4 linked regions of the Homo sapiens genome follow. The protein of the gene in region 1 interacts with the protein of each later gene in a pairwise test. Each region holds a gene or a part of one and is shown in the gene's direction. Other genes may lie near its edges.

What was found.
Region 2: the proteins of LCA5L (region 1) and FCHSD2 interact in binary tests that used the Homo sapiens proteins (3 or more experiments, as listed by UniProt).
Region 3: the proteins of LCA5L (region 1) and KRT81 interact in binary tests that used the Homo sapiens proteins (3 or more experiments, as listed by UniProt).
Region 4: the proteins of LCA5L (region 1) and IKBIP interact in binary tests that used the Homo sapiens proteins (3 or more experiments, as listed by UniProt).

What each region holds. Positions count from the first base shown.
Region 1 is NC_000021.9:39,407,756-39,414,804, reverse strand, and holds part of LCA5L (lebercilin-like protein), read left to right. Parts: intron 1-758; coding exon of another isoform or gene 759-1,001; exon of another isoform or gene 1,002-1,281; intron 1,282-3,002; coding exon 3,003-3,087; intron 3,088-3,867; exon of another isoform or gene 3,868-3,961; intron 3,962-4,437; coding exon 4,438-4,541; intron 4,542-4,708; coding exon 4,709-4,826; intron 4,827-6,127; exon of another isoform or gene 6,128-6,199; intron 6,200-6,887; exon of another isoform or gene 6,888-7,012; intron 7,013-7,049.
Region 2 is NC_000011.10:72,887,298-72,894,346, reverse strand, and holds part of FCHSD2 (F-BAR and double SH3 domains protein 2), read left to right. Parts: intron 1-4,401; coding exon 4,402-4,518; intron 4,519-6,772; coding exon 6,773-6,877; intron 6,878-7,049. UniProt on the Homo sapiens protein: Adapter protein that plays a role in endocytosis via clathrin-coated pits. Contributes to the internalization of cell surface receptors, such as integrin ITGB1 and transferrin receptor.
Region 3 is NC_000012.12:52,288,535-52,295,698, reverse strand, and holds the start of KRT81 (keratin, type II cuticular Hb1), read left to right. Parts: upstream 1-4,164; 5' UTR 4,165-4,233; coding exon 4,234-4,602; intron 4,603-5,412; coding exon 5,413-5,621; intron 5,622-6,423; coding exon 6,424-6,484; intron 6,485-7,164.
Region 4 is NC_000012.12:98,623,749-98,627,788, reverse strand, and holds the end of IKBIP (inhibitor of nuclear factor kappa-B kinase-interacting protein), read left to right. Parts: intron 1-1,022; coding exon 1,023-1,859; 3' UTR 1,860-3,540; downstream 3,541-4,040. UniProt on the Homo sapiens protein: Target of p53/TP53 with pro-apoptotic function.

The sequences.
Region 1 (7,049 bases):
CAATCACAAAGTAAAATATGCACAGACACACACACACACACACACACACACACACACACACAGAGAGAGAGAGAGAGAGAGAGAGAGAGAGGGAGAGAACCAGACAGATGCAGTACTGCCTTTTATGACCTAGCCTTGGCAGTCACGCAGCATCACTTCTGCCTCACAGCATTTGTCAGGGCAGTCCTAGGCAGTTCAAGCAGTGAACTCCACCTTTTGGTAGCGAGTCACGAGGTTGTTGAAGAGCATATAGGACTAGAAATCTTGTCGTGGGAATTCTAGGAAAATACAGTCTGCCACATTAACGAAAGTCATAGTTTGAGCTTGGAAGAGTCTGGTCCCAAAGGTCAAAAGTTCGTTTCTTTACTTTGAAACTCATTTTCAAAGTCATCCCACACCGAGTTCTAGGCCCACTTCTGCAGTATGAGCCGAAGTAAGAAGAGGGATGTCAGCCTTCCACAGCTCCCACGTGAGGTACTGCCACCCGTCTTACACCCAGGCTACGGTCACACTCCTGCATTAAGACACTGCTTTCTATCTAAGTTCCGGAAGCCATCAATGCTGACCTTAATATGATTCCACACCATGACCCAACTTCCCATTTAACTCTTCCTTGATACCCTTTGTGCTTGCGGGCAGGCTTTGCGCTGAGTATTCCACGAGCATTGCATGAACACTCCCAGCCACGGGTTAGCTTCTTGTTTCCCTTGACTGACTGAACCCAACCACACAAGTATCCCGGGTTGTGTTCCAAACAGGCTGTGTTAGACTTCTGGCCCAGCTCTGTCGTGGTGCCCAACCTGAAGCTCTGCTCCAAGCCGCAAGGAGGACCGTCCTCCAGGTTGCTTCCTTTTGACCCACGCCGCCCCTGTCGCAGCCTCTTGTTGTTGTTCTGTTGTTGCTGTGCCTCCTTCCTGCTCTCGGTTGCTGACCTCCAGGTGTCCAGACCAAATCAAAAGATAGAACTGAATTTTTCAGGTAATCAAAATGTGTCCCTGTAAACATGAAAATGTTTCCTAACCAGTGTGGATGAAAACTCATTCTAAAATGTTTTACACAGTATCCTTCATCTGAAAGCTATTATCCAGAATACACCTGATCAACTTTTCATGGTGATGAACTGTCAGCATTTACTGTTCTTTTGGCTGTTACCACAATAAGAAAAGAGAGATGAACTGTTAACATTTTTGCCTCCAGAAACTTAAATTCTAGAAAAGATTAATATTCTCATGTTTTATCCCTTTGTGTACCTCTGATAATAAACTAATTTTATGATTCAAATGAGTAGAAAATTTACACTGTACAATTCAGGTACAAAAATATGTCATGTTCTTTATTTTCTGTAACTAAGCCATACTTCCTTATGAGCCCCAGTCCCACAAATTAGGGATGAGGATGGCAGTTGGACAAGAAGAAATGGATAAAAGCTTGTCTCAGTCTCTTCTAACTCAAAACAGTCTTATGCTAGGTTGTCTCTTAGACTTGCAGACTTTTTCCTCATCCCTATCTTCTGTCTCAGTGGAGATGGCATCCTGGGCATGAGAGAAAACATATGTGTACTCTTGGTGGAGTGAAAAAGAGGCCTCTGGTCTGTGTTCTGCCCTCTGGCCCCTCTCTAGAGCTGGTTCTCCTGACGAGTGACTAGTCTTAAATCAAATTCCCAGGACCCTGTCTGATGTGTACTGAATGTGGCTGCTAAAACTCCTGGCCTCTTCTCAGTCTGGTCAAATAAATCCTGGTGATTGTCCCCTGCTGACTGTTGATGCAAATGCTCTGAGATGCATCCTCCATCTGATCCCTGGCTAGATTCTCTGTTGCAAAGCCTGTGCTATGGGAGCACCTGGATCTGTAACCTTAAGGACTCCAGGGCAGGTGCAGCTCCCTCCACAGGTCCCACTGGTTGCAAGGGTAAGGGAAGCACAATCTCTGGCCTAGAGAGGGTATTTAGCCCTTTCTAACTTACACTTGGGCAATACCATGTTACTTTAGCTCCATGATGAATGGGGCGGCGGGGGAGGCGCTTTTTAAGGGGCTTGCAATTTTCCTGGACCACGCCAAGGCCTCTTGCACTGAGACTTTCCCAAACCTCAGAGATGTTTCTCACCCCCTGAATATCCCTTGGCCCATAGATTTGACCCTAAGGGGCACAAGGAGACAAGAGCTCTCTCTCCCCGCCCCACCCCCCGTGTGTGTGTGTGTGTGTGCACATGCACGTCTGTCACACTCTGACATCCCTGGGTTCCTTCCTCCTTACTTCATATATGCCCACCTCTCTTAACCATGGTTGTTACTAAAATTCAATGGTCTTGAGTCCAAAGCCTTTCTTGCCTCCTGGTGTACATGTAAGAAGGAGCATTTGATATTTAATAAAAACCCTTTCTTTGTTCCTCAACAAGTTAAGGTTTCAAAATGTCTGTTTTGCCAAGACTCAAAAAAATCAATATGAAATTTAAAATGGAACAATGATACCCTTGTTCTAGGCTTCCCCCCCGGCCCTTGTCTAGACGTAGCCCTGTCTCATAGAACTTTCTATTAGATGGTGGAAATGTTCACCTGTGCCATCCAATACTGTAGTCACTAGTCACACACAGCTGCTGACCGCCTATTGGAAATACAAATAGTGTGGCTGACGACCTAAATTTTAGTTTTACTTTCATTTAAATGAAATCACAACATATAGTTAGTGGCTACTGTAATGCACAGTACAGAAGAATATTTCATAAACTTCAAGGCCCACAGGACAGAAGGAAAACAGTGGACAAGCTGACCTGCAAGGCTCTTCAAAAATACTGTCCCGATCACAATAATGTGTCACTTTGTTTAAAGAGCTAGTACTTTTCGATGTCAGGAATGGTATAGGATGATATGGCCTATTTCTGTTTCTTCTAAAATCTACAGATTTTATTCATAGGATACTGAGCTCATTTAAATTGTTTTTAAAAGAAATCAGGGTTGACAAAAGCAAGCATTTATAGAAAAATTGGTTTTGTGGTTCTTTTTAGGAAAAGGATCGTGAGCTTGAAATTAAAAACATCTATAGTCATCGAATACTTAAAAATTTACATGACACAGAGGACTATCCAAAAGGTATGTTTTAATTACTTTTGCTCAAAATCTATTTTTAAGTATCTAGTCAGATTTTCCTAATTTATATAGACAAAATAATGGATATTTTCAAAAATCACTTCATTAGGCATTAAAATACATTTTGTGATTCTAGAAGAATAACGAGACTGAGATGGTGACATGGCTAGCAAGGAATAGAAATGCTTTCCCGTTCTCCCATCCTCAGCACACCCCTTTATGTCCTTTCTTCAGGTGGAGCAAAAGGATAACTTCAGCTTGAAGCAAAATGTCTGCCAAAAAGTGAACTTTCTAAGTGTATCTGTTAGCCAGTGTATGGCTTTTCAAAATGAACTTTATTGGGGTATACTTGACCTCAATAAAATGCATCCATTTTAAGTGTGCACGCAGCTCAGTGGGTTTTGACAGATGTTTATACCGATGGAGCCACCACCCCAATCAAGATATTGAATATTTCCACCTCCCCAGGAAGTTTCCTCGTGTCCCCTGCAGTCAGTAGTCCCCTACCTCACCCGAGGCAACCACTGACTTTCCTTTGGTCACAATAGCCTAGGTTGTCTGTTCTAGAATTTCATGTAAGTGGAATCCCACAGCTGCACCCTTTTGTATCTGGCTGCTTTTGTTCAGCATAGTGTTTTTGAGATTCATCTATATTGATGCCACTATCATTAGTGTATACCTCTCATTGGTGAGGTCTTCTTTTCTTCAAGAGCACGTGCACTGCTTTCCCCCCAAAATCTCCCAGCAACAGATTCGACTCAGAAGTACCATAGGAATACTCACCTCTGTTTTATTAGAAGAAGTAGCTACATGTTTACTTCCAGATGCAACAACCTCAAATTTCCTTGCCTGCCTTTGTTTGCTTCTGGCTTATAATCTAGAATAATAGAGACAATGAATCAACCGAGGGGTTGTTTAAATGATATAATTTCCTTCACTTTTCAGGAAAGTGCAGTCTAGATTTAGTGGTCATGCGCTTCAGCATGGACAGTCTAACCACTGATAATCAAGAGCTCCGCCACAGGATAGCTCGGTGGCCTGGCCTCTCACAATTACACGTCTACCTTGCTGAATCCCATCCACAAAGGACAGCCTTGTCCTCCAACAGCAACAATGTCTTATCCTAACACCTACTTGTTTTATACTCAAACACTGTGAGGCCCAAAGTAAGACAAAGCAAGGGCCCTGGAGGGAAAAACAGGAAACTAACAAATGCTTATATATATATTGAATATTTAGAAAATACTTAGTATACTTTATTATTACATTGCATAAAAGTTATTTTATGTTTAAAATCAATATTGTATCCAAATGTAAAATATGTTTCTTACATATAATCTACCTGTTCCATAGTTTCTTCAACAAAATCAGTCCAAGCAGACAGAAAAATTTTGCCATTCACAAGTATGAGACACCAGGGAACCCAAAAATCAGATGTTCCACCTTTGACAACTAAGGTACAGCAAATTTGGAATCTTGCAGTGTCTGATTAAACATGTCTTAACAAAAATAGGCTACAGTCACTTGTTCTATGTGAAAAGTATTTGTAGTCATTAGAATAAAATGCAATTTTAAGTTATCTAGACCCCCCAAAATGTGTTTTTGCTGCTTTTCTAAATTACAGGGTAAAAAGGCAACAGGAAACATCGATCATAAAGAAAAATCAACTGAAATAAATCATGAAATTCCTCACTGTGTGAATAAACTACCAAAGCAAGAGGATTCTAAGAGAAAATATGAAGGTAATTTTAACTCTTTAAAGTCTATCTTATCTGATTTCTTTAAAATTGTGAATTACTATATGTGTATATAAAGCACACATAAAACAGCTGGGCATGGCAGCTCGCACCTGTAATCCCAGCACTTTGGGAGGCCAAGGCAGGCAGATCACCTGAGGTCAAGAGTTTGAGACCAGCCTGGCCAACATGGTGAAACCCTATCTCTACTAAAAAATACAAAACTTAACCGCACATGGCGGTATGTGCCTGTAATCCCAGCTACTCAGGAGGCTGAGGCAGGAAAATCGCTTGGACCCAGGAGGCAGAGGTTGCAGTGAGCCAAGATCGTGCCACTGCACTCCAACCTGGGTGACAGAGTGAGACTCTGTCTCAAAAAATTAAAAAAAAAACATAAAACCGTTTCCAGAATTATAATGAAAGGAACACCTATGTACCCAGTAGCCTGCTTAAGAAACAGTGGATGAGTACTCCTTGGAACACCCTTGGGCCCTTCACAATCATATCCCCTCGCCCTGCCCACCAGAAACCACCACCGTCTTGGGTTTTAGGCCAGTCATTCCCTTGCTTTCCCTCACAGCTCCCTGTCTTTATATGTAGCTACATTCGTCTGCTTGGGCTGCCATAAGAAAATACCACAGACTGCCGGTTTAAACAACACTTATTTATTTTCTCATGGTTCTGGAGGCTAGGAAGTCCGAGATCAAGGTTCTAGGCATTTGGCTTCAGTTAAGGCCCTCTTCCTGGCTTTAGATGTCCCGCTTCTCACTATGTCTTCATGTGGCGTTTCCTTAGTGCTCGCACGAGGAGAGTCGGGGAGAGAGCACCAGTGCTCCAGTGTTTCTTTTTATAAGGACACTAATTCCGTCATGAAGGCCCCAACCTTGTGATCTCATTTAACCTTAATTACTTCCTTAAAGACCCAGTCTCCAAATATAGCCATACTGGGGGTTACGGCTTCAACATATGAAATTTGGGAGGAAGGAATACAAACATTCATTTCATAATAGTATCCTTAAATAATATATTCAGCTTTGAAAAACTGAGTAGCAAATTATTCAAATCCAGCTGAGCAAAGGGCAATATTACCACTTTTGAATAAAGACTTCCAGAAAAAGGACCCCAGCTTCAGCTCCCTTGAATATACAAGGGCCCAATCAGTGGGTGAGGTCCTGAATCATCCTGGGAGATAGAAAAACCCTCAGATCCATGGCATCTGGCAGAGCTCTTCTGGGCAGGCCCAAGAGAGCTAGGGCCAAGAGAACGGGCTGCCCAGATTTTCCTATTCTAAGATCACCAAAGCTTACCTTCAGCTCTTGGGAGTAGGTGGAAACAAACTGCTTCTTTGGGTTCCAAGGAGAGTCCTCAGCTGGCCCAGACTGCAGGGTTTGATAGAGAGTACAACACTTCATCAGCCATGGGCAAGACAGGCCAAGGCCCTGGCTCACCTGGTGTTTGGGACCTGGAGGTCTAATGGAGCAGGGGTCCTAGTCTGTCTCCTCATCTCTGGTGTGCAGCTAACATCCTGGGATTGCCCTTCATCATTTCCTGCAGATTCCTGTCACTCCCCTTCTCTACTGGATCTTCTCTTTCCTAAGCCAAGTCCTCCTCTTTCTTGGTAAATTCCATCATGTTTTAAAGAGCACAACCTTCACTAGCTTCTTGTAAATGGGTGCAGGTAAGGTAAATTTGTATACCTCTCATCTGGAAGTGTCATTATTCTGCCCTTACACTTGATTAATACTTGCCTAGATAGGAAACTCTAGGTTGAGGGTCATTTTCCTTTGGAATTTTGAAGATGTGGCTCATTGTTTTCATGTTACATTACCACTCGTGGGAGATCTGGCTGCAGCCCCGCAAGGCTGGGTAAGAGCAACTTCTGAGGAAAGTACATGCATGATGAATGAGTCCCAGAGTTCATTCAGGGCTGCAAATCAGATGTGTTCCCTTAGGCAGCATGGAGAGCCCTTGTTGAACACATTGGGCCTTCAGTAGAGGCCCAAGGGCCTCACCTTAGTTGTAAGGCCAAATAATGTTTAAATAACACAGTAGTTTGACAGAACTCACCGGCAAAGCCACTCTCTCTGTTGCAGTTTGGTGGAAACTGATCGTCAGTTGCAGTTGCACTGTGGTCACTGGTGTGTTTAAATTTTCTGCTTATTTTTCAGTCCATTGTCCTAATTCATAGTGTCCTAGAAAGTGTATCCATTCATTTGACAAATACTTTCT
Region 2 (7,049 bases), on another chromosome or scaffold:
TCTCAAACTCCTGGCCTCAAGCAGTTTTTCTGCCTTGGCCTACCAGAACACTGGGATTGTAAGTGTGAGCTACTGTGCCCAGCCCCAGTATATTTCTTGTCTCTCAGTAAACTGAAAAATGTAAGTAGTACAAATTCCCTGAATGAGGGTTAACTAGAATGTTATGCCATTGGCCTAACAACCCCAACACTATCTTTTTTTGAAATGGTTTGGAATGCTAGTATTTTACTGTTAGTGATTTTCATTCATCATACATGACCATCTCTTTTTCTCTCCTTGAAATGGTTATATTTTAGTTACAGAGTTAAAAAACTGATTGTTTTCTTCTGCGAAGTCAGCTTTTCTATCGCTGCTCACTCTGCTCAGATATCTGAGCCTTCTATGCCTTTGTATTAACCTTAAAATAAAACAAAATCATATCTTGAGAGAGCATCTAAGGACAAAATAGTTAAGATGACTTAAAGACTAATATATCAAGAATATTGGAATGCTGATTTCCTTAATTTAGTTCTTCAAAGTTATTTAATAACTTTATGAATGTTGAAAAGACTTTATTGTAATATTTTATTCTAAAGGGACTAGAGTTTTTTTTTTTTTTGGAGACAGAGTCTCCCTCTGTAGCCTAGGCTGGAGTGCAGTGCCACGATCTTGGCTCACTGCAACCTCCGGCGCCACCACGCCTAGCTAATTTTTGTATCAAATACATTTTTAAAAGATAAAGGAAAAATATTGGGCTGGGCATAGTGGCTCATGCCTCTAATCCCAGCACTTTGGGAGGTCAAGGCAGGAGGATCATTTGAGGCCAGGAGTTTGAGATGGCCTAGGCAACATAGTGAGATCTCATCTCTACTAAAAATCAAAAAAATTATCTGCGTGTGATGGCATATGCTGTGGTCTCAGCTACTTGGGATGCTGAGGTGGGAGGATTGCTTGAGCTTGGGAGGTCAAGGCTGCAGTGAGCCATGATTGCACCACCGCACTCCAGCCTGGGCAATAGAGTGAGAACCTGTCTTCCAAAAAGAAAAATGTTAAAAGAATGATCTAGGCCAGGCGTGGAGGCTCATGCTTGTAATCCCAGCACTTTGGGAGGCCAAGAACAGGTGGATCACTTGAGGACAGGAGTTCGAGACCAGCCTGGCCAACATAGCAAAACCCCCATCTCTACTAAAAATACAAAAAGTTAACTGGGCATGGTGGTACATGCCCTGTAATCCCAGTTACTCCGGAGGCTGAGGAATGAGAATCTCTTGAACCCGAGAGGCAGAGGTTGCAGTGAGCTAAAATCATGCCACTGCACTCCAGTCTGGGTGACAGAGTGAAACTCTGTCTCAAAAAATTAAAAATAAAAATAAATTTGCCAGCATTTTAAAAAGAAGCAGTCATTACGGTTTCTTTGTTAGAATCGACCACTGCTAATATCACTGTCTTAAAAAAAAAATTACCAGCCACGCACGGTGGCTCACACCTGTAATCCAAGCACTTTGGGAGGCCGAGGCGGGTGGATCACGAGGTCAAGAGATCGAGACCATCCTGGCCAACATGGTGAAACCCCGTCTCTACTAAAAATACAAAAAATTAGTTGGGCATGGTGGCACATGCCTGTAGTCCCAGCTACCTGGGAGGCTGAGGCAGGAGGATCACTTGAACCCAGGAGGTGGAGGTTGCACTGAGCTGAGATCATGCCACTGCACTCCAGCCTGGCCAACAGAGTGAGACTCTGTCTCAAAAAACAAAAAACAAAACAAACAAAAACACAAAAACATAATTATCTATACTAGATCCTGATTTATATTGATCTTTGATAGTGAAGGTGGTATTGGAACATTTCTCTGTGTATTGTTTAATAGCCTGGGCTGTATTCACCTTGTATGAAATTCTCAGTTGTCAAGACCTGTGTCTCAGGAGCTTCCACATGTATTCCATGGCTTGATTTCAGAATTCATGAAAAGGATAAATTAATTTGAGTTTTAGTTTTGTGTCATTCCCTACCCAAAGGATCTCAAAGCCACATCTTCCAATCAGTGGCATTAGTTACCTGTCCTGATCATTGGACTCCCAAGTCTTAGTAGACACATAAAAAATAAGGGAAAAGCTCTATCCTGAGCACAGTGAATACTCAATAAGAAGGTATAAATTCTGTAAGGCAAATTGGGTTATGGCCCATCTGCAGCCAGCACACAATTTAAACCCCTTTACCTATTCCTAAAATGCTGCTCAGTAACAAAAATTAAATGTCTCTATCAGTTGCCTCCTTTCTCATCTAGCTACTCCCTACAAATTCATTCTCTTTGAGATCTGCCTTAATCTTTCAATATATCTTCAATCTTCATTTTGGATTCATTGTTTAGGCTATTAAGAACCTAGGAATTATCTGGATTTTCTTATGAACAGTAATAAGAAAATTTTTGTTTCAAGTAATTTTCAATTGGGTCTTTAACATTAACAGTTACCATTACTGGATGCCTAAGATATTATGTAGATCCTATACCAGAATGTTTAAAATATGACCTCATTATAACCTACCAACCCTATGGAGATAGGTGACATTTTCACTAGTTTTCAGATGTAGCTACGACTCAGATAATTAACATGCCCAAGATCATAAAGCTAGTAGTGCCATAAAATGGCATACAATGGATTCAAACTAAGTCTATCTGACTCAAAAACCTATTCTTGGACTCTTCAGAATTTATCTTTCTACTTTTACAGATCACATTCCTCTGACTTTTGTATATTTCATTTGTATCTGTGTCCAGAGTTTAACACTTTAATATTCCTGACTTTGAGAACAGATGTAAGTTTGAATGCCCAGATTCATTTGCAAAGCAAAATATAATAGTAAAGTTCATTCCCAAACTTCTGATAACCCCAAAAATGAATTAGAATGTAAAATATGAATGTAAAGATGGTTAAGTTTGAATATTGATTATTTTGCTCTATTTCAATTTATTTGTCATTGTTATAATCTAGCTGAAATGTCTGTATAGAACAAAAATTTTTAAACCCTGCCTCATCACAATTCCCCCAACAAAAATATTAATTTTTAAAATCCAGTTTATCAATTTCTACTTACTCTATCAATTTTGAGCTATGAGACCTTGCAAAAGAATTACTAGGCCAGGTGTACTGGCTCATCCCTCTAATTTGAACACTTTGGAAGACCAGGGTGGGAGGATTACTTGAGCCAAGGAGTTCAAGATGTTGAACTCCTATGTTGCCTGGGCAACATAGTGAGACCTTATCTCTAGAAGGAAAAAAAAAAATGAGCTGAGTATGGTGACACACACCTGTAGTTCCAGCTACTCAGGAGGCTGAAGTGGGAGAGTCACTTGAGCCCGGAGGTTGAGGCTGCAGTGAGCCGTGATCAGAATTTCTAAAATTCTTTTCATTCTACAATTTTGCTGCTTTCTATATTAAAAGCCTCTTTGGGTAATTTATATTTTAAAAAAAATTCCTAATTATCTCAATAAAGTTTGTTTTTCTTGGGTCTTTAAGAATTTAGAGAGAATTAAAATAGTTTTGTGTTTAATAGCTCTGATTCTGGAATCGGTCAATTAAGGTTGTAACATTTAACATCTAGGACATCCAGGAAAAATTAACCTCTCTGAGCCTCTGTTTTCTTTTCTATAAAATGATGTGGGACCCACATCATCAGGTTGTTAAAAAAAAAAAAAGTTATATGAAGCACTTTCCATAGTACCTTGCACAATAGAAGTTAGCTATTACTATTTTTATTTAGATTTTGTGGTTTGTTCTTTGTAAATCAGAATCATAGCATTTTAGAGCTAGAAGAAACCCTTGGTGATCATTTGATCTAGCACCCTTATCTTTCATATGAAGCCTGGAGAAAGAGCAAAAGCTGGCTTTTGAGGTTTGGTGGCAAGTTGATGGTGGACCTCTAAAGAGTTCCGTCTGCCTTGGGGCAGGGGGAGGGGTGCAAGATTGTGTTGCTGTTATTATATTGTTTTGTTCTTACTTCTCTTTAATGATTCTTTACTCACATTTAAACTATTAAGTTGTTTCCATTTTTATTTATGCAATGATTTTATCACCATAGTAGGTTGGCATGAATACATTTTCTTCTTTGCTTACCTTAGCTAGCTTCCTTCCCACTCGGAAAGATAAGTCCATCACACCCAAAAAGATAAGTCTGCAGTATTATAGATGATGCTTTTGTGTTCAGCAGTGTAAGACAAAAAGCTTATGGTCTTTAATGGTTTTATGCTGATCTTACTCTTCTGGTAACTTTCTGTGACGTTAAGACATTGCTTCCAGCAGTAGTGGAGCGTGCCTCATGTTTTGAGTGCTGATTAAGTGAAGGCCTTCTGATCCATCTACAAAGCAGTAGTGGTTACAATAAGGATAGCAATATTTTTATCTCTGTTCTCTCTTGTATTGTAGAGCCGACAGTTAGAATCAGAAACTGGGACCACAGAGGAGCACAGTCTAAATAAGGAAGCTCGAAAATGGGCCACACGTGTGGCACGTGAGCATAAAAACATTGTTCACCAACAACGGGTAAGTGTAAGAGAAAGTCCTAGTTACATTCACCTTAAGCCAAATGTCAAACAGTTTAAGGAACTGAGTTTTATTAATGTGAAAAATATCCTATATGTGTTGTTTTGTTTTATTTGAGACAAGAGGCTTGCTCTGTCACCCAGGTTGAAGGGCAGTGGTGTGAACATGGCTTACTGCAGCTTCAACCTCCTGGGCTGAAGCAGTTCTCCCACTTCAGCCTCCCAAGTAGCTGGGACCACAGGCACATGCCACTATGCCTGGCTAAATTTTTTTAGATTTTTTGTAGAGATAGGGTCTTGCCATGTTTCCCAGGCTGGTCTCAAACTCCTTTGCTCAAGCATTATATGTGTTTTTTCTGTACTTTCTCAACACTCAGCAGTGTGCTGTCAGCTATCTACTCATGTTGGAATTTCCTTAAGCCCTCCATCAGCAATACATTAATTTACCTGTTTACCATAAAATTAACAAAGAAAATTGTGATAGTGTATTATGGGCAGGGGAAGAGACATATGTTGAATTAATATAAGTTTTCATCCCTCAAGACATATTTTTTAAAAGACATAATTATAGCCGGGCGCGGTGGCTCACGCCTGTAATCCCAGCACTTTGGGAGGCCGAGGTGGGTGGATCACAAGGTCAGGAGATCGAGACCATCCTGGCTAACATGTGTTACGGTGAAACCCCATCTCTACTAAAAATACAAAAAATTAGCCGAGTGTGGTGGCGGGCACCTGTAGTCCCAGCTACTCGGGAGGTTGAGGCAGGAGAATGGCATGAACCTGGGAGGCGGAGCTTGCAGTGAGCTGAGATCACGCCACTGCACTCCAACCTGGGCGACAGCGAGACTCTGTCTCAATAAAAAGAAAAAAGAAAGACACAATTATAGATTTCATGAAAATATATGTTTGGCTGGGCGCAGTGGCTCACGCCTGTAATCCCAGAACTTTGGGAGGCTGAGGCAAGTGGATTGCTTGAACCAGGAGTTTGAGACCAGCCTGAGCAACATGGCAAAAAACCCGGTGTCTACAAAAAATTCAAAAATTAGTCGGGCATGGGGGCGCACACCTATCTTCCCACCTATTCGGGAGGCTAAGGTTGGGGAGAATTGCTTGAGCCCGGGAGGTGGAGGTTACATTGAGGTAAGATCATGCCTCTGAACTCCAGACTGGGTGACAGAGAAAGACCCTGTCTCCAAAAAAAAAAAAGAAAGAAAGAAAGAAAGAAAATATATCTCGAAGACTAAACTCTAAGCACAAAGAAATTATTTGGAGTATAGTACTTTTTTTCTGTTTCATTTATTGATACCTATATCCGTCTCATTCTTTGCCTTCACATCCTGCTTCTTAAAAGAATTGCCTATGCTTATTATCTATAGAATCTCACCTCCCACTTACTTTTTAGCCCATTACATTTGAGCTTTCCTGTCCTTTCCTTCCCCTGTCTAAGCTTACCAAAATCGCCAATGATGTCTGTGTTGCTAGCTTCCAAGTGGACACTTTGATTTCTCATTTTTCTTAATCTGTCAACAATTTCATCACAATTAACAATTCCATGTCTTAAAATGTTATCTTCTCTAGTCATCCACGATTCAACATTGTCCTGGCTTTCCTTCTGCCTTTCTGGCCATACCTAGATTTTTTCATGGGTTCCTCTTTCTCCATCCCACAATGAAATATTCAGTTTCTCAGATTCCTATACTTGGCTATCTTGTTTTCTTATTCTTTACCCTCATATAGGCATTCTCAGTCACTTCCATGGTTTTACTTTACCACCAAATCATAAATTAACATCTTCAACATTGGGCCTTGCTACTACTGTGTATCCATATAATCTCTTGCCTGTTTTGACATCTTCTTTTCACTATCTCACAGGTGTCTCAAATTCAGTGTTCCACTTATGTAATGTTGCTTAACAAACCACCTCAAACTTAATGCCATAGAACAAGAGGGTTTTTACATTATCTCTCACTAATCTGAGTATTGGATGGTCTCAGCTTAGCAGTTTCCCTTGGGGTCTCTCATGTGGCGGCAATCAGATAGTGGCTGGTCCTGGCTTCCCCACTGAAGGGACTGTCTGTAGTAAGTTTGTTACTAGTAAGTCTATAATTATTTCAAAATGTTCAAAAAATAAATAAATGAAAAAAAATTATGGCTACTAGTCACTAAAGCCCTTTGAATTATGTAAATACTTTAATCACTTAAGGAAGATGAAAAGTAAAAAACAGTCATCATTATTGTCCCATTTTCTTTAATAGGTTCTAAATGATCTGGAGTGTCATGGAGCTGCTGTATCAGAACAAAGCCGAGCAGAGCTAGAACAGAAAATAGATGAAGCTAGAGAAAATATTCGTAAAGCAGAGGTAAGGTGGCAGCTAATTGTGGCATTTTGCCCAGGTCTAATGACACTGTCACAGCTGTGATATACATCTTTAAAACTGAGTTTCTACACACACTGAGATGAAGGTGATTCACCGTCTTCATTCGTGTCCACAGTAGTATTTGTTGAGTACCTGCTCTGTGGAAGGCAGTACA
Region 3 (7,164 bases), on another chromosome or scaffold:
TTTGTACACACTGATGTGCTGCAGGGTTTCCATTTTTGTTCATTATCTGGGTATGTGTCTCTGCTTTTCTCTTAATACTGGAAGCTTGCCAAGAACAAGGGTGAGCTCTCCTATACTCTCTGGCCCTGAACCCTGAGAGCAACCTGCAGGGCCCTGCAGAGGGCATGGGGCAAGATGAGTGTTTGTGTTTTTATGTTATGTACAAACACCAGCTACTGTGTGATACTTATTACTGATGGCCGATGGTGTACAGAAGGGAGTGCAATGGGACAAACGCATCCCTTCCTTTGGGATCAGACACACAGGCTCTGGGTTCCAGTTCTGCTACTAACATGCAACCTGAGCCTTAACCTCCCTAGACCTCAGTGTCCTCATCTATAAAACGAGAATAATAACACCAACCTCAGAGGGCAACTGTAAAAATTAAATGAGTTAATGCATGTTGGACTCTTAAAATAGTATCTAGTGTGGTATAAGATGAACATCAAAAGATTTTATTATTAAGTTTGGAAGAATAGTCATAAAATAGCTTTCTACATGAAACATCTACTACTGACATAACTTTAAAAAAAATAGCCACATACCCCAGAAAAACTCTTGCATAAATGCACCAGAAGACATGAGAAAGGATGTTCATAGCAGCTCTGTTCAATCTACAGAACTCTGGAAACAACCTTGTGGCTATCGAGGTAGAAAGGCAAATAAACTGTGGTATAGCCATGCAATGAGTGCAATCCACAGTGAAAATGAACACAGGACAGCTACAGGAAGCAACATTTAATGAAAGAAACCAGATGCACAAGGATCCATGCAACATGAGTCCATTTATGTGAAGTTCAAAAGCTGGAAAAAGAAACAATATGTCATTGCAAGATGGGTGCATTGGTTCTAAAACTGTAAGAAAAGCAAAGGAATAATTAAACACAAAATGCAAGAGAGGAGTCACCCTAGGCCAGGAAGGAGTAGGGTACAATCAGAACAAGGTACATAGGAAGCTCCTGAAATACACACATGTTCTATTTTTTCCTATAAGTGGTAGGTATTGCTACAGATCTAACCACCTATGCATTTTTTGTGTTGAAATATTTCACAATAAAAATAATTGTTATCTCCACAAAGTTAAAATCTATCCTCTTTACCTTGCCAGAGCCAAGACCATAGAGTGGAGATTCTGCCATCTTCCCTCCCCTCCTCCCTGCCACCTTCCCTCCCCTCCTCCCTTCCCCATGACAAGGTTTTTTCACTCTGAAGAAAACAAGTTGAATGTCCTTTTAGGTCTTCAAAAATTAGCAGCAATTAATTCCTGAAGTTTAATGAAATGGTGTCACATTTGAATTTTTCATATTCTTACATCTTTAAAATTGCTTAGTAAGGACCAGCCATTAGTAATTAGCTTGTGTTTATACATGTTGTTTTTATAAGGAGTTATACTGGTAGAAAAGGTGAAGTGTGGATGAGATGTACTTTGACTCACAGTGCTCCTCAGGACACCCAACCGCTGGTTTACTGGGGACATCACTGCTCAATTGTGAGCAGTGCCCCAAATTCCAGATGAGGGTACAAAGAGCTTCAGAAGTGCTGGCCCAGCAGCCCTGAACTCACAAAGGGACAGCAGGTGCCATACTCTTCTCTGGGGTGACCAGATAGCTCAACACAGTCTGTGACCTCCCACATTTGTCCTGCACAAGGCCACACTCTGAATGTTTTGCACAGATACCCTGAGAGCCCTATTCTCTTCTATTTTTTTCCTCTCCTCTCTTTTCCCATCAATCCTGCTTCTGTTCTCATTCCCTAAGTCTACTCTGCCTGCCTTTGCCCTTGAAGCATAGCAGCTCCAGGGGGCTATAAGCCAGGCCATTTCACTTCTCTTTTCTTCTCCTCAATTTAATGCAAACCTCTGTACTTTACGAGCTAATTTTTCTAGGACCTGCTCTATTGGAGTGGGGGGTGGTTCACTGGGTAAGTAGAACATAGTACAGTCTATCAAAGTATTGCCATATACCAGAGGTATGCAAATAACTAAAACTGATGTTTTCCACCCCGTCCTTCAATTCTTAGCCACGGGGTGCTGCACATCTAACTCATACTCCTTCCCAGCCCCCAAGTAGCCTCACATCGCCGTGTGTCCCTAAATGACCCCTCATGGTTCTAACCATCCCAATCCACTCTGACTCTGCCCGTCTTCCTTAGATGGACTCTCTCACACCCTAAATTCACAGATACTCCCCTGTAAACAACTTTCACTACCCTCTTGAACTTATCCAAAGATTAGGAAGTCAAGGGGTTGTCACAGCTTATAAGTGAGAAGGCAATGCAACTCCTGGCTCCATCACTTACCAGCTGGGAGACTTCGGGCAAGTTATTTAACCTCCCTGACCCTTGGTTTCCTCATCAGTAAAATGGGGATAATGGCACATACTTCATATGATTGATGTGAGAATTAGAGATCATTTACGATATATAATGATGATCACATAGTAGGTGACCAATTAAAAAGAAACATATTCTTATCAAACTAAGATCCATGTTTCTCTACACAGTTCTTTCTAATTCTAATTCTCTATACAGTTTTTCCTAATACAGGGGGAAATGTACTGAAGTGATCCAACCTCCATCTCCTGGGTTCAAGCAATTCTCCTGCCTTAGCCTCCCATGTAGCTGGGAATACAGGCACGTGCCACCATAACGGGCTAATTTTTGTATTTGTAGTAGAGACGGGGTTTCACCATCTCTGGTCTTAAACTCCTCCACTGAGGCTGGTCTTGAACTCCTGACCTCAGGTGATCCACCCCCCTCAGACTCCCAAAGTGCTGGGATTACAGGTATGAGCCACTGCGCCCAGCTGTGATTCAATTTAGCATCACCAATCTGACATTTTATGCTTCCTGGGGTGATATAATAAGAGTTACACAGCATATTTTATGAAGTATTCTGTCCCAACAATGTTTAATTTAAACCTAATCCAGCCTCTAGCCCAGTGCTGTCCAACAGAATTTTATGTGAAAATAAACAATAAATAAAATAAAAATAAATAATAAAGAAGTGTTCTTTATATGCACTGTCTAATAAGGTAGGCACTACTTACAGGTAGCTGCTGAGGACTCAAAATGTGGATAGTGCAACTGAATAACTAGATTTTTAACTTATTTAGTTTTTACTAACTTAAATTTAAGTAGCCACATCTGCCTATTGTCTACCAAATTGGACATCCCAGCTCAAGATTTACTTTCTAATTTATAGAAAATACAAGGGCTAGAGCCACAAATTAAATTATGTAAAATGTAGTTTTAAAATCCTTAGGACAGTTAGGAAAATTGAATCTGAGATGAATAGTAAGTGGTGCTTTGGAATTATTGTTAATTTTCCTGAATAAGAAAATAGTACTCTCCTTATTCTTAAGAAATTCCTGCTGATGTATTTAAGGGTGACATGCCATGCTTTCTGCCACTCAAATAATTGGGCAACTGTGAAAGCAAATATGGTATAATGTTAACTGTTGAATCGGGGTAAACAGGTGGAGCATCAATGCATGTGTGTTGTATTATTCCAATTTTCCTCAATATTTGAAAGCTTTCATCATAAAAAAGATAAAAGACAAATATTTAATAATCTGCTGACTGTTCCCATGGTAGGAAAAGTGAGATGGTTTTCAGCTGCCAACTGAAAAATCTGGAGATGGGGAAATCCAGATTTGTGTTTCAGGAGCACTTTAGCCACAGCTGTGATGGAAATGAGAGATGGTATTTATTAATGCCTCAGCCTTTCCTGAAACCCCTCTCCCCACATCACACTTAACACACAGGTCTCCTCCTCCCAGTTTCTCCCAGCACCTGGCCTCCCTTCTCTTCCCCTCGCCAGGCTCTACTCCTCCTTCTCGTCCTCTCCTCTGCCTTCCCCTTCCCTCCCCAATGCCTGCAGATGAAGGAATGCCCTGCTGGCAAGACACTTTGAAGATGAAACATGCTGACTCCCCCAGAGCCCAAGACTGACATCTTTTACAAAGAAGAGGGTGCAGGCCACTCCCCCATTAAAGCACATTCTGGAGAGGCGTTAGACCCGGCTAACCACCCAAGCCCATAAAGCGCAAATTGCCCCAACATCATCTTCACAGCCAAGCCCCTTCAGAATCTGCGCATAAATAGGGCTGCGGTGCCCTGAGGAGCACATTGGAGTTTCCATCAGGACTCCAGGTCCCCTATCCTGTCCTCTGCAACCCAAACGTCCAGGAGGATCATGACCTGCGGATCAGGATTTGGTGGGCGCGCCTTCAGCTGCATCTCGGCCTGCGGGCCGCGGCCCGGCCGCTGCTGCATCACCGCCGCCCCCTACCGTGGCATCTCCTGCTACCGCGGCCTCACCGGGGGCTTCGGCAGCCACAGCGTGTGCGGAGGCTTTCGGGCCGGCTCCTGCGGACGCAGCTTCGGCTACCGCTCCGGGGGCGTGTGCGGGCCCAGTCCCCCATGCATCACCACCGTGTCGGTCAACGAGAGCCTCCTCACGCCCCTCAACCTGGAGATCGACCCCAACGCGCAGTGCGTGAAGCAGGAGGAGAAGGAGCAGATCAAGTCCCTCAACAGCAGGTTCGCGGCCTTCATCGACAAGGTGGGTGTCCTGGATCACACCCTTCCTGAACCCCCACCACCTACACAGCCAGGGCCGGGCACTAAGGATGGAGTCAGAGGCACAAAGACCTCTGCCTGCCTGAGATCCCAGTCTGATGGGCGAGGCACACAGACACACAGACAGACAGACACATGCACAGACACACACACACAGGCACTCAAGATGCAGACTCAGCTGACAGTTCAGATAGAGGGAGCTTGTGAAGGAAAAGTGTGGCCAGGCTGCTCTGGGGCACAAGCTAGACATCAGGGAGTTGGGGGAGGGGGGCATGTGACCACTGCTGCTGAACTCAGAGGGGTTTGGGCAGCCCCAGGGTGAGAGAGTAGGGTGCACTGACTTCCAGATGACACAGGGGAAGGGCTGGGACAGCTGAGCTCCCTTCCAGATGGCCTGTGACACCCTCTTCCTGGCACCATCCCCAGAAACCTCATCTGTGATCTGAACCTGAGTACTCTGCCTGTGTGGGTTGCTGATCACCTAGTTTCATAGTGAGGGACTGAGCCTCCACTTCTGTTCATCTGCTTGGGTTGGGGGGGGGGGGTCACTCAACTCCCCAGGGAGCAGGCACTGACACCACCCAGCCCTTGCTCCACTCCTGAGTGGGAAATCTAGACACAGATCATGACCAGGAAATCCAGAAATTGTCTGTCTCCCACTGCCCACCTCTACTCAATCTCAGATAAGCTCCAGATTTGGGGGTTCCCATTAAAGCACCTCCCCTGCGAGCCCCCAGAGCTGGCTTTGGGGCACCAGACACCATCTGCCCCACCTTCCCACACCGAATGGCAGGTGCGCTTCCTGGAGCAGCAGAACAAACTGCTGGAGACAAAGCTGCAGTTCTACCAGAACCGCGAGTGTTGCCAGAGCAACCTGGAGCCCCTGTTTGAGGGCTACATCGAGACTCTGCGGCGGGAGGCCGAGTGCGTGGAGGCCGACAGCGGGAGGCTGGCCTCAGAGCTTAACCACGTGCAGGAGGTGCTGGAGGGCTACAAGAAGAAGTGAGTGCGGGCAAGAGGGATGCTGGGCACAGGAATGGGGTTTAGGTTAAATACACTGGATTAGACAATAAGAACTCCCAGGTAGGGTGAGTGGCCATGACCACTAGATTGACCGAGGGTGGCGGGGTCTTTTCCTTTGTGGAATCTTTGCCCAGACACCTGTGTAAGAGGAGGGCTGTGACTCCCATGACCTGTCTCTGTCCCACTTCAGCCTTCTCTCCCTGAACCACATCACCCAGCAGCTCTCCCCTGCGCTGGGTGGGGAGGAAGCCTCTGCAGGGTCCAGGCCTTCTCTCCTGACCCTCAGCCCCTATACTTGTAGCACCTGTCAGATGTGAGCCCAGGGTCTCTCATGAGTGACAGGTCTTGGGCTCTGGGTGTCCCACTGCCTTAGGTTCTAAGTCCTGAGGGTCTGCGGGTCCAGGAGGCCCCATACCTGAGCTGGGATTGATACCAGTGAGGGGAGGCTAGGGCTACAGGCCCTGAGAGTCCACGCTGTCCACTCCCAGGATGGGGCTGGGGGCTGAGTCCTATTTGCCTCCTGGGGGACCTCAGAGCCCCTTTGGGAACAGGACTGGGAGGTCCCAGATGAGCACTCTCCATCCCCAGTTCAAAGTGGATAGAGAATCCCAGACACATCCCACATCCAACTAGAAAGCACTAAGCTAGGCTGCCAGGCCGGGGCTGTGTGGAGGTGTTTCTAGTACTGTCCCCATGGCTGTGATGAAGTGTGATGTGATGGTGGCTCTGCAGAGACCTGCCCTGCCCTGACCTCCCCTCTCTTCCCTCTGCTCTGTCTCAGGTATGAGGAGGAGGTTTCTCTGAGAGCAACAGCTGAGAACGAGTTTGTGGCTCTGAAGAAGGCAAGTGACACAGGATTGAGAAGCACAGATCTGTGGGATCTCAGAATGACAGATTCTTCCTGGGGACACACAGGGGGTCTCAACCTCAGCGTGGGGCACAATGACCTTTCCACAGCAGGCTAGGACTGCCCAGATGCAGGCCTTTGTATTGAGCATCCAGGGCCTTGACAAAGGGCAATGACTTGGGAATATCTACCAGCACCTACCTTGGGCAAGGGGATGGCTGCACTGTCCTCTGTGTGTCCTGCTCTGTTCCAGAGGTTGTGGTCTATTGCTGAGGCCCCTGGAGCCATAGCAGATACAATGTCTCTGCTGAGAGACAGTGCAGTCTGTCTAGCATTTTGGGGAGTCTGACCTTGAGGCAGAGACACAATCCCAGGGTCTAAGGGGGGATGGAGAAGAACCAGGAGCAGCCACTGGGCTCTTGGAGCACTTGTGGGGGACAGGAAAGGGTCAGGGTGTGAGAGCTGGGGGGTCAGTCTGGGCAGGCTTCCTGGAGCAGGAGATGAGAGAAGGGAGAGACAGGAGGGCAAGGAGGGGTGAAAGGCTGGTGAGGCATGGTCAAGGCAAACAGGGTTTGTCATCAGAGGGACAGAGGATGCCAGCTCATCCCAGGAAGGGCAGAAGGGGAGGAAAGGCATGGGAATGGGACACCAGGGACTGCTTTCCCCTGGCTACAT
Region 4 (4,040 bases), on another chromosome or scaffold:
TACAAAGTTGCAGTTTCTAAAAAGCCAAAAAACCATAAAAATGACATCGAGGGCTGGGCGCGGTGGCTCACGCCTGTAATCCCAGCACTTTGGGAGGCTGAGGTGGGCGGATCACGAGGTCAGGGGATCGAGACCATCCTCGCTGACACGGTGAAACCCCGTCTCTACTAAAAATACAAAAAATTAGCCGGGTGTGGTGGCGGGCGCCTGTAGTCCCAGCTACTCAGGAGGCTGAGGCAGGAGAATGGCTTGAACCTGGGAGGCGGAGCTTGCAGTGAGCCGAGATCACGCCACTGCACTCCAGCCTGGGCGACAGAGCGAGACTCCGTCTCAAAAAAAAAAAAAAAAAGAAAAAGAAAACTGACATCAAAGTTACTTACCATTAGAGTTAAAAGGAGGAAATTGCATCTATTTCAGGCACTTTAACATTACTTTTCTCTTGTATATGCTTCCATAGAAATGCTGAAATATCTAGGATTGTGTGTTCAGGTGTATTTTTTTTTTTTTTTAACATAGTGCTGGCCAGGCGCGGCAGCTCTCGCCTGTAATTCTAGTACTTTGGGAGGCCGAGGCAGACGGATCACTAAAGGTCAACAGTTCAAGACCAGCCTGGCCAGCATGGTGAAACCCCATCTCTACGAAAAATACAAAAATTAGCTAGGCATAGTGGCGCGTACCTGTAATCCCAGCTACTCAGGAAGCTGAGGCAAGAGAATACGTTGAACCTGGGAGGCGGAGGTTGCAGTGAGCTGAGGTTGCTCCACTGCACTCCATCCTGGGTGACAGGGTGAGATTCCGTCTAAAAAATAAATAAATAAATAAAACAATGCAGGGTTAACGTATTTGTGAAAACTATTAATGTAATAAATATCTTTGTCAGTCTGATTCTGATATACTTGGATATTTTAGACATCTTCAGAATTTTAACGTGGCATGTGTTATGCTCCTGATTGTTAAAGTGTGTTTCTCTAATATGAAAATTATTAAGTAGCCTTGGGAATTGTTTTGTGTTATAAATGCAGCTTGAGTCTACTGAAAGCATCCTGCAGGAAGCTACATCATCCATGTCTTTGATGACCCAGTTTGAGCAGGAAGTATCCAACCTCCAAGATATCATGCATGACATTCAAAATAATGAAGAGGTGCTCACTCAAAGGATGCAAAGCCTTAATGAGAAATTTCAGAATATTACGGATTTCTGGAAGAGAAGCCTAGAAGAAATGAACATTAATACAGACATTTTCAAATCAGAAGCAAAACATATACATTCTCAAGTAACTGTCCAAATTAACTCAGCTGAGCAGGAAATAAAATTGCTCACTGAACGGCTAAAAGATTTGGAAGATAGCACACTAAGAAATATTAGAACAGTAAAAAGACAAGAAGAAGAAGATCTCCTGCGAGTAGAGGAGCAGCTAGGCTCTGATACAAAGGCAATTGAAAAGTTAGAAGAGGAACAGCATGCCCTCTTTGCCAGAGATGAAGATCTGACTAATAAACTTTCCGACTACGAACCCAAAGTTGAAGAATGCAAGACACATTTGCCAACAATTGAAAGTGCTATTCACTCTGTTCTCAGAGTCTCTCAGGATCTGATAGAAACAGAAAAGAAAATGGAAGACTTGACTATGCAGATGTTTAATATGGAAGATGATATGCTGAAAGCAGTGTCTGAAATAATGGAGATGCAGAAAACCCTTGAAGGAATTCAGTATGATAATAGCATATTAAAGATGCAAAATGAACTGGATATTCTAAAAGAAAAAGTTCATGATTTTATAGCATACTCAAGTACAGGAGAAAAGGGAACTTTAAAAGAATATAATATAGAAAATAAAGGAATTGGTGGTGATTTTTAAATTCATGACATTTATTCTGATGAACCATATCATTATACATAAATTGATTAGTCCATTGATTTTGAGTTACTTTGATACGCCTCATCTTATCCTACATTATTGGAAAATAAATGAGATGTCCACACAAATGGATTATCCACATAATCAAAGCTTATCTTTTTAAGCACTAAAACTTACTTCATTGTAACTATTTGAAATAGAAATAGTTCTTTAAAAATATTTCTCTACTTTTAAAACAAGATACTTAATATTTTTAATGTTTTTTAAAGCATTAATGAACATCATCATTAATTTCACCTATTATATTGTACCCACATATATTGATGTCTCCAGGGGCTAATAAAGAGTATTTACCACTTCACTAAATGACCCCAATTTGCCATTTTCAAACCTATGTCTCATACCTTTTCTGTCACCTGAACTTACTGTCAGGTTGGTTGGTAATGTGCCTGCCTCAGCCAGTTCACTTTCTTAGGTAATTCACTGCAGGTTAAGAATCCACACAACCAAGTTCATGGGAATTTTGTGTAAAATAAAAGATAACATGCCTGAGGGAGAGCCTGGTGCCTTTGCTATGAATTAATATGCACTTTCTGAAAACTCTAAAGCCTGGGAAACATTTTAGTTTTTGTTAAGGTTCTAAACTGTGTTACAGATACTTGTAAGACTTTTAAAATCAGAGTAAGTATGTTCTTACATAAGGCCTTTCTTAGGAATTATGTGTATATAAATCTTTGAAATATCTTTATATACCTGAGTTTTAGGTTCCAACTGTGTTAGACATGAGTTTGCTAGATCCATGGTCTCTAGATGGTTTACTTAAATAGGCCAGGCGCAGTGGCTCACACCTGTAATCCTAGCACTTTGGGAGGCCGAGGTGGGCAGATCACGAAGTCAGGAGATCAAGACCATCTGGCTAACAGGGTGAAACCCTGTCTCTACTAAAAAATACAAAAAATTAGCCAGGCGTGGTGGTGGGTGCCTGTAGTCCCAGCTACTCAGGAGGCTGAGGCAGGAGAATGGTGTGAACCCGGGAGGCAGAGCTTGCAGTGAGCCGAGATCGCGCCACTGCACTCCAGCCTGAGTGGCAAAGTGAGACTCTGTCTCAATAAATAAATAAATAAATAAAAATAAGCCTGTGGCCTGTTTTGAGGGAAAAGTAACATAACTCTGATAATTAATTATGATAATAACTATGATAGTTAAAAATACGTCATTTTAAAGATTTCCCAAACCACACCACTAAATTTGTTTTATGAATTGATTTTATTTTATTTGAAATTATATAATGTAGTCAACTGCAATATGGAAGTTTGTTCTTGTTTCTTTGTCAATAACCTTACCAGTTTTATAATGCAGTTTTTGATGGAATTAAACACAAAGAACTTGAAAGCAGTCAGTTACAAAAAGGTAGTTGTGGTCAAGTAGTTTTAATATGTAAATTTGCAAGTTTTTGGAGAACCCCCAAACTCCTTCTCCACTGGAGTTAGGAGGGCCTGTGGTAGACAGCGTGAATCATGAAAATAAGCCTGGAGAGTTCTGTTATTAAGGGGCATAGCATTAATTTTTGCAGTCTTAAAATTACACTTCTTGACTTCTGAATGTCTCTTATTTGCGTGCACTGACAAAATTCTATTTGTTTACTTTTATATTAATGGTAATAAAATAGATTATAAAGTAAGCTGGAACTTTGTTGTTTTAACCTCCATCCTGTCAAGGCAAATGTGATCTCTTATCTTATATCCTTTACGTTTAAATATTTTTTTCTCACCGATCACCACATTTAATATGAGGTTATTATGAACTTATATATACCATGGTAATGGTTACTGAAAGTAAATGGAAACAAGGTGGCTACTGTTCTCTATAATGACACAAGGGAAAGGAAGAAAACTGCACTTCTACAAGTATAACATGAGAAAACTATTAAAGTATATATGCGTTTGTATGTATGTATAGATATCTAGATAGATATATCCTGTATTTATGAAGAGGTTTTCCTATTAAGAAATTATTAGAGAGATTTAGATGTACTTAATTTGTCTTTCTCTCTTTCTTCCATTCATTTATTTAACACAGATGCTTAAAATTTCAAAAACTTTCCTGTGTATCAAATATTAAATTACATTGTTAGTCTTTTCTTTAGGGAAAATTACCAATATCCTAAAACACATTTTTGTA